Regions from separate parts of the Homo sapiens genome. Here region 2 is linked to region 1. A link means that fine-mapping ties the variant in region 1 to the expression of a gene that starts in the linked region. Tissue or cell type: blood mononuclear cells. Region 1 holds a variant in brackets; the other region holds the start of a gene. All regions are shown on one strand. Distances are between the middles of the regions.

Region 1 (2,682 bases):
AATCCCCAGCCATCCACCCCAGCAGAGCAGTCCTGTGGTCCCACTGTCAGGCCAGGGCCCAAGGCGTGGAGAAAAGGGCCACTTACCTTACACTGGTGGCAGCAGGAGCCGTGAGCACACTCCGCCCCCGGCCTCAGGGTACAATTAGAGGCATTGCAGCAGGGGTTGTTACATTCCTGGGGAGGCAGTGGGGTGGGTGTGAGTGGGGGAGGGCCTTCACCACCCCCAACATTTTCCCCACCCTTGCCCACACACCCCTGGAACCCCAGCTCTCTAGCAACTATCTCTTTTTTTTTTTTTTTTTTTTTGAGAGGGAGTCTCGATCTGTCACCCAGGCTGGAGTGCAGTGATGCAATATCTCGGGTCACTGCAACCTCTGCTTCCTGGTTTCAAGCGATTCTCCCGCCTCAGCCTCCGAAGTAACTCAGACCACAGGCACACCCCACCACACCTGGCTAATTTTTGTATTTTTAATAGCGATTGGGTTTCGTCATGTTGGCCAGGCTGGTTTCAAACTTCTGACCTCAAGTGATCCACCTGCCTCGGCCTCCCAAAGTGCTGGGATTATAGGCATGAACCACCGCACCTGGCCTGGAAACTTTTGACCTCAAAAATCATGTGACAGCTTCGTCACTAAGCTAATGTGTACTTGTCACAAGAACCATATATATGCACAATCATTAGTAACATGACTTGGACACAGCTACATCTTTTTTTGAGACAGTCTGCAACCTTCTCCTCCTAGGTTCAAGCAATTCTCATGCCACAGCCTCCCAAGTAGCTGGGACCACAGGCACACACCACCATGCCCCGCTAGGACACAGCTACATTTTGAGTATGAATATTTTTCAAGGCATTTTCTACACACATACATATATATTTATACTTACTTTACAAAATCATAGTATCCACAGTGTTTTTTTACTTAATATAACATGCGTATTTCTCCCTGTAACCATGTAGTCTTCTAAAATGGACTTTTTAGCAGAGTATATGGAAATTTTATGTTTTGTTTTTCTAATCCCCAGTAGAACATCCAGACACCCTGTCTTTCATGGGTGCCCTCCTGCCCCCAACCCTCCTAGGCTTTCTTATCTCATGAAAAGGGGCTGCCGGTGCAAGAGTCTGCTGGAACAACCTCTCCAAACAGTTTATGTCAACTCCTGGGTCTGTTTCCTTAGATTTTTTTCTCCATCTGCTTCTCTTCCTAAGCCCTTCCTGGCCTGGACCTTTCTGGAACAGAAGATCTCCATGGGTTCCTTGCTCTCCCCCAGCCTGAGATTTTTAAAAGATTATGAGGCGTTCCAGTGACCCTGAGCGTCCTCATCACACTCTTACAGTATTAACAGGCCAATCCATCAGCCATTGATGAAAAGTGTACGGGGCTCCACAGATCTCTCCACCACAGCCTTATGAGGCAGCCTTGACCCCATTCCACAGACAGGGATGCTGTGGCTCAGGCAAGTCCAGTAGCTGGCCGAGGGACACACCTGCTGAATTCAAGTCAGGTCTG[C/T]CTGAGGCCTACCTCATGTTTATCAACCTTATACCCCTAACTGTCCAGGGCTCTAGCATATTGGAGAGCCACATCCCATCCCCTGACCACAGACACCTGTCCACCTGTCTCCCCTAAGAGAAGGAATAGAACACTTTCCTCCCATTATTCTCCCACCATGTTGGGCTCCAGGAAGACCTGTATTCCTGCCTTCCTAATGTACCATATTTCTTCCCACGAAGGCACAGGCTCCCCTTCCACCTGAAATGTGCCTTCCCTCCTGCGTGCCTCACTAACTCCTAATGCAGCCTTCAGATATGGGCTCCAGGTCACCTCCCACACAAGCAAGGAGGTTCCCCCTCACATTATATATGTTCAGAGCACTGTGTCATTTGTCTTCCTAGCACTTGCCATGGACTGTACATATATTCTTTTGCAATTATTTCAATATGTGTTTCTCCCACTAGACTATCAGCTCCCCAAGGACAGGAACTATGTCATTTTTGCCACTCATCCTAACCCTAGGACCAGACACAGTAGCCCACACTCAGTGTGCCTGTTGAATGAGCAACTGCTCAGAACCTAAGCCAACTGGCCATGCCCACTCTCAGGCCATTCCTCAACCCCAGTGGCCCTCCATGTTCATACCACTCCCTCCTTTCTGATGGGTCTGTGTTGATCTCTCTGGGCTCATGGTGGTGGGGGTGGCATCCTTGACTAGTTCTTGTTTTATTCTGAAAGTGACATACTGGCATTAAAAAAAGAAAAATCACATCACAGAGGTCACAGGCAGGGTGCGGTGGCTCACGCCTGCAATCCTAGTGCTTTGGGAGGCCGAGGTGGGTGGATCATCTGAGGTCAGGAGTTTGAGAACAGCCTGGTCAATGTAGCAAAACTCTGTCTCTGCTAAAAGTACAAAAAAAAAAAAATTAACCAGGTGTGGTGGCACACACCTGTATTCCCAGCTACTCAGGAGGCTGAGGCAGGAGAATCGCTTGAACCCTGGAGGTGGAGGTTGCAGTGAGTGGAGATCTTGTCACTGCACTCCAGCCTGGGCAACAGAGTGAGAGAGAGAAGGCCATAAAATCAGATTTTTTTTTCCATTTATACAGAACCTCAGTCTCACCCCCATAATTTACTGTTACTTGTTATCTACCCCAAATTGTTATGCATGTATAAACATACATATT
Region 2 (2,682 bases), 75 kb after region 1:
GAAGAGCTCTCAGCCTCTGGGTTTGAGGCGGCCCGGGGGTCCAGCCAGCCCACCCTCGCTCCGCCGGTGCTCGCTCTATTTGAAAACGCTGACTGTTGGTCCCCCAAGCAGCAGTCTGGAGTCAGCCCAGCCCGTCTGCAGCGGTGGAGCCAGGGCTAAGCCTTCTCCGGTCATAATGAGAGAACCCGGGCACCGCCCCCCGGGACCAAGCCTTCCGCGAAATCTGCTTATAGCCCCCGAGGGATGGAGCCGGGGAGGGGATTGGTGTCTGGGAAACTAGTCCTGAGAAACACGGACATCACCCGGCATCTTAGCTGGAAACATCGAGTCAGACCCCTTCGCTTCACAGAAGGGGAAACTGAGGACCAAAGAAGGCGGCCGTCGGGTTGGCGTGGAAAGAGAGCCCTGGTTTCCAGTGCCACCGCGGACCTCAACCCGTGGCGTGGCCTTGGGCAAGTCCTTTCCCTTTTGTGGGCCTCGGTTTCCCCATCTGTGAAATGGGTGCGTTTGACTTGGCCTTCAGTAGGGCTCCTGCCAGCTCGGGGATCCGAAGTGTGTGGCTGCAGATACCCAGCGAGCCATCCCCTAGCCAAGGCTACCACAGTCTGCCGCGGGCATTTTATGTCCTACCCCACCAGTGTGGCAGGCACCGAGCCTGGTCCCAGGAAGCCGCTCCCAGGCCACACGGGCAGGGCGCTCGGGATGCTCGGCGTTGGCGAGTGCAGCGGGCGGTAGAGAGAAAGACAGAGAGAGAGGCGGAGCGGACACGAGGGACCGTGAGAAAACGGAGGAGGATAAGCCCCGAGAACGGCGGAAAGAGAAGCCAAAAGCAGAAAAACAGAGGAAGGAGAAGGCGAGAAGGGAAGGCTAGCCAGTGAGCGGACCGGCTGTTTTCTGGCTGCGCCGGGTTTCCCCGACCTCTGCCACCTCCCAGGGCGCAGAACGTGGGAACAAAGCCCGGGCTCCCAGGCTGGGGACGGCGGGGGCGCAGGCCCCGCGGAGTTGCGGGAGGCGCAGGGGTCGCGGTCCCAGCGCTCCGGACCCGCAAGGCTACTCCCAGGTCTCCGGGCCACCCAGCCTCCATCCCCCCGCGCCTGGCCACTTACTTGTCCATCCAGGCTCCCGCGCCGCCCGCGGCCGGAGGGGCTGCAGGGCAAACGCCAGCAAGCAGAGCCGGGCGGCGCCTGCGCCCCCTGGCATGGTGGCGGCGGCCCTTAGCGCTCGGCGCTCACACGCCCTCAGCCATACCTGCCCACTGCCCGGCGGTGGAGGCGCGTCTGGAACCCCCCGGCTCGCCCCGCGCCTCCCCACCCGGCTCCCAGCCCTCTGCCGAGACGCTCCGCCTCCAGCCCCGCGGGCCTCCGCCAGGGGATGGAGGAGGGGAGGCTCCAGCCCGGAGGGGGCTGGAGGGAGGGGCCGGGGAGGAGCTGGCGAGACTCGGGGGAGCGGGGCTGGCTCAGGTGAGGGAGACCGCGGGGAAGGGAGAATCCGAGCCCCCCAGGAGGAGGGATTTGTGGTGGACGCGGCCTGTAGAGGGTCGGGGACTCGGGCTTCTAGGAGTTAAACTGGACCCCTCTCCGCACAGCGGCCCGTTTACTGTCCCGCACTGTGCCAGACGCCTTGGGTGACACTCAGAGGTGATTCACCCAGCGCCGTCCCCCGGGGGCCGCCACTCTCGGAGACAGGCTCAGAAAGAGTTAACCCAACCGCCAGGCACAAAGAACTAAGTGCTATATGGACTTCTTTTTTTTTTTTTTTTTTTTTTTTTTTTTTTTTTTTTAAGCAGGACACAAATCCAGGAGCCATTCCTTCTGCCTGGGAGGAGGGAGTGATGAAGACCAGAGGAATCCCAGAGGAGAAGCCATCTGAGATCGGGAGGAGGAGAAATGGAACATCAGGCGGAGGAAACAGCCCAGACAATCGCACTGGGACGTGAAAACCCTTGGGCTGCATGCGGGGAGAAAACCAGAATTGGGGATGGTTAGGGTTTTGGAGGGAAACACAGGGACATGTGACCAAAAATAATAATAACTACTGTTACTTATTGAGGACTTTCTATGTACTAGAATAAGAAAATCATGATAGCTAAGACTGATAAAACGCTAAGTGTCAAACGCTGTCTTCAGCACTTTACACATATTCACTTATTTAATTAATCGGAGAAAATAACTTTTATGAGCCAGGGACTCTGCATACATTATCTCTTTTCATTAGCCCAGTAATCCCATGGGGTAGGTACTAGTACTATCCCTGTTTTAGAAATGAGGAAATCAAACCTGAGAGGCTAAACCACTTGCCCAAGATTACACAGCTAATGTCAGTGCCTAGATTCAAACCCACATCCGTATAACTCCAGAGCCTGATGCAACACACCTTATTTTCCAGGTGGAGAAACTGATAATGAGAGAGAAATGACTTGCCTAAGATCCCTCAGCAAGTTTTAGCAAAGCCTCGTTGTAGAATCCCAGCCTCAAACCTCGTCCATCTGTTCCTTTTTCTGAGCCTCTTTAGTCAAACCCAGGTTGACTAGAGAAGTGCTAAGTGTTGGAGAGGGCGAGGCACTCCTGAAGATGATGGGTAGGTAGGTCTATCAAACCCTACTCATGGGCACCCATGAGGGAAATCAAATAAGTGGTTCTGGCCATTAATGTCGTTTGGGACTCCGTTAGTCTCCAGCTGCTG

The links. PIP is the estimated chance that this variant, and not a neighbour inherited with it, causes the effect.
Region 2: ADAM19 starts here. The variant in region 1 is fine-mapped to the expression of ADAM19 in blood mononuclear cells (TOPMed, PIP 0.96).

Annotation. Positions count from the first base shown.
Region 1 is chr5:157,499,487-157,502,168 of GRCh38, forward strand. ADAM19 (ADAM metallopeptidase domain 19) reads right to left here. Exons shown (of 23, transcript NM_033274.5): 13 at 87-176. Among named protein-coding and RNA genes, the nearest start is that of NIPAL4, 41 kb to the left of the region's middle. RefSeq lists enhancers at 515-564, 625-684. The variant C/T (reference allele first, on the strand shown) is at 1,514.
Region 2 is chr5:157,574,497-157,577,178 of GRCh38, forward strand. ADAM19 (ADAM metallopeptidase domain 19) reads right to left here and starts at 1,279. Exons shown (of 23, transcript NM_033274.5): 1 at 1,107-1,279. The coding sequence starts at 1,200. It overlaps LOC124901121 (a long non-coding RNA gene), which reads left to right and starts at 483. Exons shown (of 2, transcript XR_007059018.1): 1 at 483-874; 2 at 1,784-2,114. RefSeq lists enhancers at 1-504, 741-820, 2,678-2,682 and a silencer at 991-1,430.